Linked DNA regions of Homo sapiens: region 1 is linked to region 2. Evidence: fine-mapped expression QTL. Tissue or cell type: monocytes. Region 2 holds a variant in brackets; the other region holds the start of a gene. All regions are shown on one strand. Distances are from middle to middle.

Region 1 (8,102 bases), 100 kb before region 2:
CAAAAAAAAAAAAAAAGAAAGAAAATATCCCCCTCACCAAGTTAATACTTTTATGGTTGCTGGTGGAGCTTATATTCTCTAAATGTAGAATTTTTTTGGGGGCGGGGGGGAGTATCTTCTCTCTGAATTCTATATCATTATTGGGGTATAATAAAATGTACCTACATGCTCTGGTCAGTCAAGGTTCATCAAGTCAGAAATCACAAATGAATTCACAAATTCTTTGCTCTAAAGTCATATAACAATGCAGATATTAAATTGCTTGTCTAACTATACCATTAGATTCCTTTTTCACTCCATTATCGGCACACACACACACTTCTCTCGGCATCCAGGCATTCACAGGTATCCAGTTCCTAAAGCGCCCAGCACGACTGCTTTGTCCAGGTAAGCAACAGTGGGACATAAGGAGAGGCTGTGGGGCCCCTCTTCAAATAGCTTCGACAAAACGAATGGCTATAAGTGAAAAGTGTCCCTGGGCTTTGCTATAAAAAGACTCAAACATGGGATTCCAAGAATTCCACCTGTTTCCAATTAGATACCAGAATTGCTTGAGTGTTTAAGCTACACTCGCTTGCTACTTACACAAAACAATTCTTCCGGGTTTTGTGAACATTTTAAATATGTTAAAATAAGATTAAGGGTCTGGTTTAAACAATCGGAGGCAGGGAAATTTCGGTGGAAACCAAAACTCTCTCTCTGCAGCGATAACGCGGGGCTTCAGACAAAACAAAAGGACAAGACAGACAAATTTCTGTCTTTGACAATTATAATAAAAGTCACTTTTCATAGAGCAATTACATTTTTTAAAGTTATGTATTCAATAATTTTAAATAGGTCTTAAGTAATTTCTACAATAACTCACGATCCTGGATCCTGTATATTTGAATAATGGTTAGAGTTGCCTTTTACATACCATTTGTGTTACAATTCGTCAGATATACCTGTCTGTGAAATTTACATGTGACAAATGTGTAAACTATTTGAAATGGAAGCACGGGTAGGAATTTAACCTACCTCTGTAGGATTCTTCATATGATGAATTTCTCTGCTTACGAAATGTATGAGTTTTCCCCTAACAAACGTGTCCTTCCTTCATTTCACTAAAAACAGACGTTCCTGGGGCATTACAGAGGAGCTGAAACAAATGTGGATTTTCTACTTCTAGTCTTGTGTTCTCTCCTAAGACACAGAAAGTGAGTACAGCCTCAGGAGTGGTTTTGATTGTTTACTGCTACAGGTAGACCCAGAAGGGAATCAGAGAGCACAAACTACTGTTCCTTCACAGCTCCCATATAAACCCTGATGGGTTTGTCTTAATTGTACAAAAACAGGAGACTTTTTAAATAGCCATTAAAGGTTTCAGGCTCAGCACAGTTCACCAGACTGCATTTTTAAGGTTAGCTCAGTGGATTTAGGAGAGAATCATTCCTGAAGGTATTGGACTATTTGGCCCTTTCAGCTTTCTTAGGTTGGCTAACTACCGACAGAAGATACACGAAGCCGAGGATGTAGTCAAAGGGCTCTCTGTGGACTCAACTGTACCAGGAGTTGTTGCATTAACTCACCACTTGCACCTTTAAGGAAAAAAAGAGTTTCACATAGGAAAAAACTTAAATCAACTGCCAATGACCCCTTCCCACATCCAACCTCAAAGACACCCATATTAAAAGAACCAAGAAAACAAAAGCAGGAGCAGCAGTGGTGTAATTTCTTGAACTGCTCTTTTATAAAGGGTACTAGATGGGACATTTTAATTAAAATAATATACTTATTATGGCAAACAGTACTGGACAGCCAGTAACATACACACTTCCACAACAGGGGGAAAAAAAGCCATCAGAAAATGGACTTTCAGCAAAACTGAAATTGTTTTTTGATTCTGAAAAAGAAGGCAACTTTTCAAGTTTACTTTTGCAGAAGCTGCTTAAAGGGGAAGGCTGGTCACCATGTGGGAATAATGTCCCAAAGGGAAGGCAGTCATTGGCGGGCCCCGTCCCAAAGAGTTCAAAGCTCCACTAACATACAGAGTGCCATGAGCTTTGTCTTAGAAAGTGTCCTCCTTTCAAATATGTATTTAAAAGACAAATTTATACAACAGTGCTTTTCTTATTTAAAAAGAAAAGAAAACCTGGTTTTTACAAGTCTGAGATAGGATAAAAAACTTGTCCAACTAGTCTTAGCAATACCAAAGCACTGAAACTTCCATACCACAAGCCTTTGGGACTAAAAAGGAAACGGAATAAAACACAATCTTCAGAAATTCTCTTCCTGAGCACACACTCCTGTGCCAAGGCAGCAGCTTCAAGACCCAGGAAGCCGAGGGACAAGAACCCAGTGAGCCAGGGTTGCAGAACTGCGGAACGGCCCAACCTCACCTGGACCCGCTGACGTCTCCAACCTGGATTTCTCTCTGCAAAGACCGATCAGCCTCTTTACCCCCAGGTGGCAACCCAATCTCAGTATAAAGAGGTCTGGAAAAATGAGAAAAATCTGGAACTAATGAATTCTCTCCCAAACTCGTTCTATTGACTCACTGACTATCGGTGGGAATTAACCAGACACCAACTCCAAAGGCCTCCTCACCGCCCAGAGAAAGAACCAGATTGGCCTGAGACTTGAACTTTGACATTCCGTATTCGACTAAAGTTTGCAAACCCATAGGAAATCATCTAAGGCCAAATCGTTAGCAACCACCAAAAGCAAAGGAGTAAAGAGGAATGAAGTTCAAATAAGGGACTTTGTTTTGGGGTTTGGTTTTGATTTCTTCTTAATATCCACATAAAGTGCAAGTAAACTGACATGGAAACTTTCGATGGAACCCTGGAGCCCTGATCCCCTGAAGAAGTAGCTAATATGGGGGACAGGAAGGTTTAGAGTTCTTAAAATCTAGTAACTCTAGAAACCAAATCCATTTTCCAGGCAATTTTGCCAGGATGCTTTAAAAAAGACACTTCATTGATATTAAGCTAGGATGTCACATTTAGGAAGACAAGAGAGAAAAATAATAATAATGTTTGTCCTTAAAACTCCACAACGGGTTTTACAGTAAGCACAGGAATTAAATTATGGTAAAAGGGAGCTATTTTTACTAAAACAGGGTAGACCAATTTATCAAAAATGCCATTCGGCTGTGTTCATTACATCCAGGAATCTAATTTACACAATAGACACTTTGGAGTAATCTATTTTAGTCAATAAATACTTAAACTCCTTTAAGTTTTAATCTTATCGGAAATACATATTTCGCATAGTCTTCTTCCTAGTTAAGCGAGAAATTTCAGGAAATTTCATAACGACTATGACTCGGCTTTATCGTTCTTAGTAGGCAAGAGCAGAAAACAAGCATATACAATTAAAGTTGTCAGATTCCATTTAAATATGTTTTAATCCAACCCGCTTCGTTTGATACAAGCCTGCATCTCGAGCTTTGCTCCCAAAGGTATTGCGGTAGGTCACTGTCACCAGTCCTCCAGGTTAGGAAAGTTCAGCCAAGTTTATCTTCACGCACACCTTAGCAGTTGGGAGTAGCTGCAGTTCCCCAGGGGCCCTGAGGAACCCTCCTATCCCCTCCCAGAGCACCAGGCCGCCCTAGAGCATTCTAAGCCGCGGGACCCGGGCACCCCCCGACATCCCCGGTTCCCTCCGCGCCTGCAACCTCGGGACTTCTGGCCCACACGCCGCTCACCTTCAACCTGGCTCCGGCTACGCACAACATCCACCTGGCAGAGTCCCGGGGCTGTCCCGGCGCCGCGGGCGCCGAGCTGGCACGTGCGGGGCGGACCCTAAGGGTGCGCCGCTCCTCCGGGCGGGGGGTGGCAGGCAGGCACTCGCCCCTTGGGCACGGCGGCGACTCGGGCGCGGGCCGGGGAGCCCCGGCACGGTCCCCCCGCGGCGCCGGGGACTCCGCGCGCGGACCACCGCCCGGCATGCCACGGTCCCAACGGGCCCCCGGGGCTCTGCTTTCGAGAACCCGGCCCGAGAAGGCATCTCCGAGCGCACCCGCCGCGCGCTCCATGGCGGGCCCTGCAGAGAGGGCAGAAGCCCCGAGGGGACGCAAGGAAGGGACCCGGCGCCGCAGGTCACCGGGGGCCGCCGGAGCCCCCAGGCGCGCGGCGATCGCGGCTCGGACCGGCGGCGGGGAGGCAGCGTACACTGCCCGGGCACCCGGGGGAACAGCTTGGGGCCTGCCTAGGGGAAAGTTGCAGCCTCCTCCTCCCGCGCCCGCACCCGGCGGTCCGGGACACCGGGACCCAGCGACACTGCGCGCGGGGCACCCCCGCCGCCCCTCGCCAAGTTTCCCCAAAGAGCCCCCGCGGGGGTCCGCCACGGAGGAACAGGTCCGCGTCACCGACACAGGCACACAAAAGAGCGCGGCGGCCGCGAGGTGCGCGGGTGGCCCCGGGGCGCTCCCCGGGACGTAAACAAACCCGGGGGTCCGCGCCGGGAGCCACACGCGGGGTGCCGGAGCGGCGGCGCGGCCCGGGCCGGTGACAGCCGGGGGCGGCGGCCGGGGCCGGCCGGGGGTAGCGAGCGCGGGCGCCTGCCCGGCCACCCGCCCGCCTGGCCGGAGCCGGGCCGCGCCGCCGCCGCCGCCGCCGGTGGCCGCTCTGACCCTCCCCCGAGCCGGCGGCACCACAGCGCCACCAGCCCCAGCTCCGCCGCGCCGGCGGCAGTGGCGGCGGCTCCTCCTGGAGAGGCAGGCGCTTCACCCCCCGCAGCAACTCCCCACAAACTTTCCCCGGGAATACGGCGGGCCGGGGGCGCGGGGCGAGCGGGCGGGCGGGCGCCACCGCCGGGCCGCGGCCCCCTCCCGGCGCCCGCCGCCGCCCGCCCCCCGCCGCCCGCTCCCCGCTCCCCGCTCGCGCGCGCACCCCGCGGGCCGCCGGGGCCGCCCCCTCCCCGGTCCCGCGGCGGCAACGGCGGCGGCGGCGCTGGCGGCGGCGGCGGCGCGGGGCCCGGGGGGGCGCCCGGGGTGGGGGCAGACACCGGGGGCAGTGGTGGCGGCGGCGGCTCCCGGCGCCATCTTGGGCTGATCGATGAATTGAACAAAGAGGATCAATTTCCGATCAAGCGAGTGATCAATGGGGGCCGGGGAGCGGGAGGGACTCGGCCCCGACTCGGCCCCGCGGTGCCCGGCACCCCCCTCCTCCCCGCCGCCGCGGGCCCCCCGGCGGCTGGGCCAGCCCGGGGCCCCCGGCGGAGGCCGCGACCGCCCGCAGCCCCCACCCCCGGGCGCGAGGCCGAGCGCGGAGGAGCCTGACCTGCAGCTGCTGTAAATCAAAGCGCTTCCAATATTGAAACATCGATCCCACATTGGCCGCCATCTTGAGACATATTGAGACGGAGTGAGCGGCTGATAGAGAGGGGGCTGGAGTTCAGGAGCCGCCAGGAGGCAGCAGGCGGGCGGCGCCAAAACCCGGCCTGGAGCCGGCCGCCGCCGCCGCCACCGAGGACGCGGACTCCTCCTCACGGCACCGCCGCAGCCATGGCGAGCCCGAGCCGGAGCCGGAGTCGCAGCCCCAGGGCGCGGCGGCCGCGGCCCGGCCTCGCGCGCGCGGCCCCGGCCCCTGCTCCCCCAACCCCCCCACCGCCGCCCTCCCCCTCCCCTCCGCGGGCCGACCGGCGACCCCCGCCCCTCGGGACAACCCCCCCCAAAGTCCGCGGTCGCGCCGGCCACAGACCCGGCCCCGAGGGGGCGCTGGAGGGCAGCGCCCGGGGTCCCCCGGCACCGCGCACCTGGGGAGGGCTGCGGGGGTGGGGGGGGTCTCCCGCTGGGATCGCGATCGCCCGCGGTGGCCGAGCGCAGCGCCTTCAAGACTCCGGTTGGGGGGAACGTCGGAGCGCCCCTGTAGTGGTTAGTGTACAGAGCGCGGAGACGCCGCTACCACCTGCCCGGGACCCCCCACACCCGACCCCTGCGTGGCCCAGGCCCCCCGCAGCAGCGTGCGTGGGAGGCGCCCCGACGGTGGACGGCAACACTCTGATCCCTCTGCGCCCAGCGAGGACCGGGACACCGACACGACCAGGAACAGCGTGGCATGTTTGGAGGAGTGGAGTTGAGGGGGAAACAGCCCTGACCCTCTCAGGGGGCCGCGCGCGTGGATGCCCCACACCCGGACAGCGGCGGTGCCAGCGTCGCACCCGAACGCACCCCAACGGCGGTAGCGCTGGGGGTCCCGGCAGCCCCCATTCGCCCAAGCCGTTCCAGTTTAGGCCACGACAGGAAAAGTCTGGGAGCCCAGTTCTGTGTCCCCCCGCGCCGCTTCAGCGGAACAGCCCAAGAAACTTCCTGTGGTTCAGACACCTTGGTTTGTTGCAACTTTGGGCGCAGAAAGTTGGAAAGTGTGGGTGCACTCACTGAAAACGGAAAGCGTGGTCCCAAGTTTACAGAAATGCTAAAATGCAAACCAAAAAATAAATTCTCTTTTGATTTCTCTCCTCGCGGAAAGCTGGCGAAAGCACACGTTTTATGATCGTCATCTTTCATTGATTATACACACGTGTGACTTGGAGTTTCCAGTAGGAATACTGTTCTTTGACTCTCCCGTACTTCACTGAACGAGTAATTAGTTAAAACAAGTCCCCAAATTCCTTAATCTCAAAATGCATATGTAAATAGAATCTGCATAGGATACAAAATAAAACGCGCAAGTGGAAAACAATTGCTTTTCAAGTGAGTTCGAGGGTTGGCGCAGTGAATTCGGCATTTTTGGAGGAAGAGGCTGGAAATGAAAGTCCCAAGATTTAGAGAACACGCGTGTCCCCAGGTCTTGCGCAGCTGGCCAGGGGCCTCAGTTTCCCCAAGGGGAGGCCCCTGATGTCGGGAACGGGGTTCACTGTCTCCCCAACGCAACCTTGACTCGCCGGTGGGTGGGAGCGCGCTGGCGTCGGGGGGCACGTTGCGAGCCTCCACCCTAGATGCGGTGACGCCGCGCACAGCAGGGCACTGTGGATCTCGGGTGGCCAAGGGCTGCCTCCGTGTGGGGCGCCCCGGCCCGCGCGCTCAGTCGGCCGGCCGCCGCGCTGTAGCTCCGACCGCGCCGCCCGGTAGAGGGCAGCGGCGCCCCGACACTCGGGTCCTCGGGTCCTCGGGTCCCCGCGCACGTGCCCACCGGCGCGCCCAGGCCCCCGCGCCTGCCACGCCCTGTCCCGGAGTCAGGCTTCTGGCGGGAAGCGGCATTGCCACCGAGGGACATTCCTGTCCCGGGGAAATGCGACTTCTAAGGATGCCTGCACACTCGGGGAGGCGGCGGGGGTGGGGGGGGGGGTGCTTCCGCCTTCCCCTGGCATGTCTATTTCTGCGGTGGCAGGCAGGCGAGACCTAGGAATTGCGCTAAAGGTGGCTAGACAAAATGTGCAGGGGCTTAAAAAAAAAAAGAAATCCCTCCCATGGGGAAGGCTCAAGGAAGGATCAGGGAAATGGTTTGGATTTGATGCAGATGTTCTCAATCTAATTATCGTGTAGATCCCCTGGGTTTGAACCAAAAAAGTGAAATATATATGACCTGTGTAATACTCCCGAAATACATCTGGTTGGAATTCAGTATTCTGAATCCATGGCAATATTTTAGAAATAAATCTGATGACTATTAAATACCGTTGTTACATTTCTGGTTATATTTATATTATTTACATGCTAACCTGACTTAGTACAGACACACTATATTGGATGGCCCAGAGGTTAACCTCTATTTAAATACAGTTGAGTTCTCCCACCAAAGTTTTGGGTTACATAAACCTTGTTGCTCTCTGCAGGGGGTGGTGGGAAGGGAGGAGTTTAGAATAACTTTCACCAGCACCATAAAACGTTACTTTGTAAAAAGAAATTCATTCAAAATAAACCACTGATCAAAAGTTATCTGCGTTGAGTGAAACAGCAGAGACCTAAAAAAAACTTTTTAAAGTGCACTTTATTTTTCTTGAGCAAGTATAGACACAGAATAAAAGCAAATTGTATTTATTTCCAAAGACTATTTTGTTTCTTTTGTATTGTTTCAGATTGATTTTTAGCCCCACCATTGTAAAAACCCAGGAGTACCCACTGGCAGAGTGGATCTACAAAGATGTGCGCTGCATAAAATATTTACAAAATATTTTAT
Region 2 (8,102 bases):
CATTGCCTGTCACACTGAGAACATCATACGTCACTCTCGTGGCACCTGCACTGGGCTGTGTCTGAGAGAGATGCCATTGTACCCCAGTTAAAGATGAGAAGGCCAGGCACGGTGGCTCACGCCTGTAATCCCAGCACTTTGGGAGGCTGAGGCAGGTGGATCACCTGAGGTCAGGAGTTCAAGACCAGTCTGGCCAACATGGTGAAACCCCGTCTCTACCAAAAATACAAAAATTAGCCAGGCGTGGTGGCACGCACCTGTAATCCCAGCTACTCGGGAGGCTGAGGCAGCAGAATCACTTGAACTCAGGAGGCGGAGGTTGCAGTGAGCTGAGATTGTACCATTGCATTCCAGCCTGGGTGACAGAGCGAGATTGTCTCAAAAAAAAAAAAAAAAAAAAAGAGAAGACAAGGCCTGGGGAAGCGAGGTTGTCCACTTCAGAGGCAGGACTAAAACCCCAACCTGGTGGCTGGCTGTGCTTGGGGGGCCTTTCTCCACCACGCCACAATGTCATCTCTTGACTAGAAACTGTAGGCCACTGCCTCTTTCTGCAGGGCAGGAATTGGAAGCCTGGAATTGATAGATAACTTCCTCCTGATGGCAGAATATGTTAGGGTCAGGGCTGGGGCTGCCACAGCATCCGTCTCCCGACTCCCATCCCAGGGCCCCTTTCTATTTCATGGTTGCTTCACCATGGGCCCCTATACCCAGGCAACGTTGGTCTTTGGCATGGGAGGGGAGGCAGGTGGCAGACAGGAAGCCACACTGGAGTGTTGGTGAGGGGCAGGGGCTGGATCCCTCCCACCTCACGCAGGGGAGCTCCAATGAGGTTTCCTGCCCAGAAAGTAAAGGAGGGCCGGTCCTGACACTTGAGGTGCCCCAGGCAGGAGAGAGATCACAGGGATGGCTGCCTTGGGCTCTGCACCTGTGAGCAGCAAGTCTTCTCATCTGTAAAATGGGATGATCACAGTGCCTGCCACACAGGACAGGAGAGAGCATCAGGTGAGCCCCAGCTGCGAGTCAGAGGAAACCATTCCGTCCCCAACCTTGTCTGTCTGAAGATGGCAGGGCTGGCAGCTTCTCCTCTGTTTGGAGGTGGTGATGTGATCATATAAAGGCAGGGGCTTGGGCCGGGCGCGGTGGTTCACACCTGTAATCCCAGCACTTTGGGAGGCTGAGGCAGGACAATCACTTGATTCCAGAAGTTCAAGACCAATGTGGGCAACATAGTGTCTCTACAAATAATGAAAGAAAAAAATGGCCGGGCGCGTTGGTTCACGCCTGTAATCCCAGCACTTTGGAAGGCCGAGGTGGGTAGATCACCTGACCTGAGGTCAGGAGTTCGAGATCAGCCTGGCCAACATGGTGAAACCCCATCTCTACTAAAAAATACAAAAAAATTAGCCGGGTGTGGTGGCGCATGCCTGTAATCCCAGCTACTTGGGAGGCTAAGGCAGGAGAATCACTTGAACTCGGGAGGTGAAGGTTGCAGTGAGCCAAGATTGTGCCACTGCACTCCGGCCTGGGTGACAGAGCGAGCCTCTGTCTCAAGAAAAAAAAAATTGAAAATAAATAAATAAAGCCAGTTATGGTGGCGCACGCCTGTGTGGTCCTGGCTACTTGGGAGACTGAGGTGGGAGGATCACTGGAGGCCAGGGGCTTGAGACTGCAGTGAGCTATGATTTTGCCACTGCACTCCAGCCTGGGTGACAGAGTGAGACTTTGTCTGGAAAAAAAACCCAAACAAGCCACAAAACCAAACCAAACCAAAACAAAAAACCATATTCTTGGTTGATGTGTGCCCTGGGAGAATGTCTGAGTGACTCTAAGGGTCCGATTGAAGCGGAGGATCGTTGTCCCCATGACAGAGGGACACAGAGACCATCTGGGTCCTGTGTGGCCGATTTCTAGGAAGATCCCAAAGTCCAAGCAAGCCCCTCCCCATCTGTCCTCCCTCTCACCTCTGTAGACTGGTTCTGAGAAAGGGCCCCTCCTCGTCCAGCTCCTCCCAGCTCGGGCCCCAGTCCTGGGGTGTCTACTTCCCAGCGTCCTTAGTCCCATGCCCCCTCCGCCTTCTCATCCTGGCGGTTGTCCTCACTTAGGTTATTCTCCGACTTCTTGCACCTCCCACCTCCTCCTACCCACCCCTAGAACTCTTCCCTAGCTGCTGCCAGACCGATCCTGAGAAGGGGCTCAAAGTCCCTTGGTATATGTGTAACTGCAGGGATCAAAGACCTTCTGTGGCTCCCCAGTGCCCCAAGGGATCTGCACTCGTGGGCTGCCCTGCCCAGGCCTGCCCGGTCCGTGTCTTAATGGCCTGCATTCTGGTTTCCAGGCACACAGTCCTGCTGGCGTACCCGATGCGTTCTCCGCGTTCTCCATGTTCTTCCTTCTCCCTGGGTGTTCTTCCCGGCACCTCCCCGCCTGTCCCATCCAGGGCTGGGGATCCTGTGCTCTCTTTCCTCATGAACTCCCATCCTCATGAACTCCCACCAGACCCCTAGTTGGAACCACCTCTCCGGAACACTCTGGGGATAAGCGTGTTGGGGTGGAACGGGGAGGGTGGATGGGCACCGAGCTGGTTCTCAGCTGGGGCTCTGGTTTTCTTTGAGGGAGTCTGATCACTCATCCCTCAGGCCTCCCCAGGGCCCTCCTATGAATCCCCATACCAAGAGGCCTCTGTAGCTGAGCCATTGCCCCTCTTCCCGGGCAGTGGGGCTGTCTGAGGCCCTAGAGTCTCTGCTCTGCCCAGTTTAGTTCATTTCCGGTGTTGCCGGCATGGGGCAGGGCCTCTTACTTGCCCCGGGAGAGCCAGTGGTGGGGAACTCTGCACAGCCCTCACAAGTGTGGTCGGCGACCTCCCTCCCGGGGACCTCGCCTCCTGGTTTCGGGAGGCGCTACCCCGCCCTCCACCCTGTGTAGCCTTTTAGAGAGGCGATTGAGTTCAGACAAAGTCTTGGATCAGGGCTGAACCGAATCAAACATCCTGGAGCACCCCTACTCCCCGACCTGCCCCCCATCTCTCTGGGTGTTGAAGCTGCCCCTCCGGTGATCAACACGCTTGCCCAC[C/G]CCCGGGGAAATGTGAATGTGGTCTGGGCCATGATTCACCACCGTTGCTTCCATGAGGTCATCTGCGGCCTCTTTCCCCCACGGGGCTGGCGCAGGGGGCTGGACCGGCTGGTCCCCCTCTCTCCCTCCCTCTGCCGGGCAGGAGGGAAGGCAGGAAGACAGGCTATCTGTGCCACCATCTAATTACCCCGGGAGGTAATTGCTCGGGATTTTCTCTGACATCTTGAGATTTCTCTCTGAGCCTTCCACAGTGGAGACAAATAACCCTTAAGGAGGCTACGGGCCCCAAGACAGGGCCTATTGCTAAACCCTGACAACTCCCCATCAGCCCCGCCGCGACGTGCCCGAGCTTTGAGACAGCGTGAGTTTATGACAGGTCCCATTAAGTCTCTTGCACAAGCACTGAGTGTTGAAATACCCAACAGATGATGACAGTGTTGAAATAACCTGTCGTCTCAGCACTTTCCCCACCATTAGCCAGATGTTCCAGCCCTCAAAAGCGTTCGCAGCCTTTTGCAGGGAGGGAGGGGGCTCGGATTAAGGCAGCCCAGGTCCCAGTGGGAGTATGGTTCGGGGGGTCTGGGGCTGAGGGCAGCTGGGGTTCCCAAGAGAACAGGGTGAGGGGTGGTCTAGGATTGGAAGGATGTGAGAACAGGCAGAAGGGGGCATGGGTGCAGCTGTCCCTTCATCCCAGAGTCCACAATCACTGTGGAAGGGGTGCAAGGGCAGAGACGGCTCTGTGCCCTCTAGATGTGGGACTGTTTTTGGAGGGAATCTTGTGTGGCTCAGAGAGGTGATTTCTCAAGACCCAACCAGGAAAGGATGAGACCTTGTCTTTTTTTTTTTTTTTTTTTTTTTTGAGACAGAGTCTTGCTCTGTTACCCAGGCTGGAGTGCAGTGGCGCCATCTCAGCTCACTGCAACTTCTGCTTCCTGGATTCAAGCAACTCTCCTGCCTCAGCCTCCTGAGTAGCTGAGATTACAGGCGTGTGCCACCACGCCCGGTTAATTTTTTGTATTTTTAGTAGAGACAGGGCTTCCTCATGGTAGCCAGGTGGGTCTCAAACTCCTGACCTCAGGTGATCTGCCCACCTCAGCCTCCCAAAGTGCTGGGATTACAAGCATGAGCCACTGCGCCCAGCCGGCCTTGTCTTTTAAAAATTATTATTAGGCTGGCATGGTGGCTCACACCTGTAATCCCAGCACTCTGGGAGGCTGAGGCGGGCAGATCACCTGAGGTCAGGAGTTCGAGACCAGCCTGGCCAACATGGTGAAGCCCCGTCTCTACTAAAAATACAAAAGTTAGCCAGGCATGGTGGCGCATGCCTGTGATCCCAGCTACTCGGGAGGCTGAGGCAGAAGAATCACTTGAACCTGGGAGGCAGAGGTTGCAGTGAGCTAAAATCATGCCACTACACTCTTGCCCGGGCAACAGAGTGAGAATCCATCTCAAAAAAAAAATTATTATTATGCATATTTTATTTACATATAGATGAGGTCTTGCTATGTTGCCCAGGTTGGAGTGCAGTCATGCGATCTTGCCTCACCGCAGCCTATGCCTCCTGGGTTCAAGAGATTCTCCTGCTTCAGGCTCCCGAGTAGCTGGGACTACAGGTGTGCACCACCACACCTAGCTAATTTTTGTATTTTTAGTAGAGATGGGGTTTCACATGTTGGCCAGGCTGGTCTCGAACCCCTGACCTCAGGTGATCTGCCCACCTCAGCCTCCCAGAGTGTTGGGATTACAGCTGTGAGCCACTGTGCCAGGCCAACAGCCTCCTTCTCTTATTCATCTTTGTGATCCGAGACAGAGGTCCCTGCCAGGGATGCTGAGAAAGCCCAGCATGTGAGTGGGTGGAAGGGAGGGGACAAGAGAAGATGTGTGGATCAGGGGAAGCCATGGTGGCATGCATTTGGGGTCCACTGAGTCGCCCATGTTGCCCTCATTTCTTCCAGGCTGTCTTGACTGGGGACTCCAAGTGCATGTTCGTTTTTTTTTTTGTTTTTTTTTTTTTTTGAGATGGAGTTTGGCTCTGTCGCCCAGGCTGGAATGCAAGCGGCACGATCTCGGCTCACTGCAAGCTCCGCCTCCCGGGTTCGTGCCATTCTCCTGCCTCAGCCTCCCGAGTAGCTGGGACTACAGGCGCCCGCCACCAGGCCCAGCTAATTTTTTGTATTTTTAGTAGAGCCGGGGTTTCACCATGTTAGCCAGGATGGTCTCGATCTCCTGACCTTGTGATCCACCCGCCTCGGCCTCCCAAAGTGCTGGGATTACAGGCGTGAGCCACCGCGCCCGGCTCCAAGTGCATGTTCAAAGTTGGGTCAGGAAGACCCCGCTTCCTCCTGGGGCACATGGCAGGGCATTGGAAGTGGCCTTTGGGAGACCACACTTTACTTGGGGAGTAGCTAATGATGTAGTCAGCAGGCCAGGGTCCGGGGCCTTCAGATCACTCACTGGAGAGGTTTCAGGAGCCAGGATCCCTGCCTTGGTTTACATCCCAGCTTCATTCTTTTTTTGAGACGGAGTCTTGCTGTGTCGCCAGGCTGTAGTGCAGTGGCATAATCTCGGCCCACTGCAACCTCCACCTCCTGGGTTCAAGCGATTCTTGTGCCTCAGCCTCCCAAGTAGCTGGGATTACAGGCAAGCACCACCACACCCAGCTATTTTTTGTTTTGTATTTTTAGTAATTTTGTATTTTTTTTGTATTTTAGTTTTTTTTTTTTTTTTTTTTTGTATTTTCACCATGTTGGCCAGGATGGTCTTGATCTCCTAACCTTGTGATCCGCCTGCCTCGGCATCCCAAAGTGCTGGGATTACAGGCATGAGCCACTGTGCCTGGCCAGCTCCATTCTTTCATGGGTGACCTCGGGCAATGCCTTCACCTCCTGGTGCCTCAGTTTCCCCATCTGTAAAAGGGAAACCAATAGTTCCAGCTGTGTTTGCTTTATACCTACTGCTTTGTTGCTCACACATGCAAAGGGACTTTCTAATAGCAATGTTGTTAAATAACACTAGGTTTTTTAATGAACATTATAAGGGTTGGTCATTGGAGGTGTTCAAGCCAGGAGGGGACAATTGTCCACTGTTGACAGGACTCCAGCATTAGGTGGGGCTGGGCTGAAAGTTGAGTTCCTCCATCTGTTGCTGATTTGAGGAGTTAAGTGGAGGAGTTTGCAGCTAATAACTGAGCCCCAAGGAGCTCCAGCTGTGAAGAGGATGTAAAATAGAAAAGGGGCTAAGTTTTTTTTTTTTTTTTTTGAGACGGAGTCTCATTCTGTCTCCTAGGCTGGAGTGCAGTGGCGTGATCTTGGCTCACTGCAGCCTCCGCCCCCCAGGTTCAAACGATTCTCCTACCTCAGCCTCCTGAGTAGCTGAGATTACAGGCGCCTGCCAACACACCTAGCTAATTTTTGTATTTGTAGTAGAAACGGGGTTTCACCATATTGGCCAGGCTGGTCTCAAACTCTTGACCTCAAGTGATCCGCCCGCCTCAGCCTCCCAAGGTGCTGGGATTACAGGCGTGAGCCACCACACCTGGCCAAAGATTTTATTTTTAGTACCTTCCCCTTTCTTTTGCTTCTGGAACTCAGTGTCCCCATGCTGTCACTCCCTTTCAGGAAAGGACTGGCTATCAGCCATTCACACCTTAGTAAGAATTGCTTTCCTGGGAACTTGGCTTTCCTGGGCTGGGATGTCTAGGAATTCAGGGATCAGGCTGGGCAGGTAGAACTATGTCTCTGGGCTGAGGCCCAGGCACCCTGGAGATGACAGTGCTGCCATCTTCGGCTGCGTGGGCTCAGCTTGGCTCTGGAGATCAATCCTGCTCTTGTTTGCTCGGAGCACTAGGGTGGCTTTCTGCCAACACCTCCCCTCATCCTCCAGGCTCAGAGGAAGTGGTGGGTCCTGACTGGGGAACCAGCCTGGGGCAGCGAGACAGGCGGTCCTGGGTTCCACAAGCTGTGTGATGTTGGCTGAGTGTCTACTCCTCTCTGAGCTTTAGTTCTGCCATCAGTATTAGGGACTCCGGGAGCATGTGGCTTACAGGGTGACTGTAGGATGTGACATGTTCAGGCATATGGGTGACTGCAGGAGGGGAGCCTGTGGCCATGATGATGCTGGGCTGGGGGACTGGCATGCGATAGGTGTTAACAAGTAGGCACTGGCTGGATTTGAAAGGGCAGTTGCTGGCCAGGAACAGTGGCTCATGCCTGTTATCCCAGCACTGTGGGAAGCAGAGGTGGGTAGATCACTTGAGGCCAGGAGTTCAGGACCAGCCTGGCCAACATGGTGAAACCCTGTCTCTACCGAAAGTATAAAATTAGCCAGGTGTGGTGGTGGGCACCTGTAATCTCAGCTACTTGGGAGGCTTTAGCAGGAGAATCGCTTGAACCCAGGAGGTGGAGGTTGCAGTGAGCTGAGATTGCACCACTGGACTCCAGCCTGGGTGACAGAGCAAGACTCCATCTCAATAATAATAATAATTATAAATGAAAGGGCAGTTGCTCTGCTGAGGAGCTAGGTGGCCAGGGCACTGCTTACCCCAAACCTTAGCTCAACGGGGTGCCAGTTTCAATGTGTTCAACTCCTCCTCTGTCACCGCCTTTCTGGTCTGGGCCACCATCATCTCTCTCCTATACAGATCTTAGAGCCTCCTAACTCATCCCCCATGGATCAGCCTCCCTCTGGCAGCCAGAGTAACCTTTTTGCTTTCCAGAGTAATCTTTAAAAATCCTAAATCAGGCCGGGTGTAGTGGCTTGTGCCTGTAATCCCAGCACTTTGGGAGGCCGAGGTTGGGGGATCACTTGAGCCCAGGAGTTGGAGGCTAAAGTGAGCTATGATTGTACCACTGCACTCCAGCCTGGATGACAGCATGAGACCCTGTCTCTAAAAAATAATAATTAAAAAAATATATATATATGAGGCTGGGTGTGGTGGCTCACACCTGTAAATCCAGCAGTTTGGGAGGCCAAGGTGGGTGGATTACTTGAGGAAAGGAGTTCAAGACCAGCCTGGCCAACATGGTGAAACCCTG

Which allele goes with the higher level. Positions count from the first base shown, and alleles are read on the strand shown. Sizes are in standard deviations (SD) of each study's normalised expression.
For the expression in monocytes of the gene that starts at base 3,732 in region 1, G is the high allele of the variant in region 2 and C is the other (moderate effect, 0.46 SD a copy in Quach 2016).

Evidence for each region. PIP is the estimated chance that this variant, and not a neighbour inherited with it, causes the effect.
Region 1: CUX1 starts here. The variant in region 2 is fine-mapped to the expression of CUX1 in monocytes (Quach 2016, PIP 0.91).

The regions. Positions count from the first base shown.
Region 1 is chr7:101,813,256-101,821,357 of GRCh38, reverse strand. CUX1 (cut like homeobox 1) reads right to left here and starts at 3,732. Exons shown (of 24, transcript NM_181552.4): 1 at 3,689-3,732. The coding sequence starts at 3,718. RefSeq lists enhancers at 1-272, 4,548-5,476 and silencers at 3,783-3,832, 3,883-3,952, 3,983-4,062, 4,133-4,452, 4,563-4,722 and 3 more.
Region 2 is chr7:101,713,219-101,721,320 of GRCh38, reverse strand. No RefSeq gene overlaps it. Among named protein-coding and RNA genes, the nearest start is that of MYL10, 88 kb to the right of the region's middle. The variant C/G (reference allele first, on the strand shown) is at 3,070.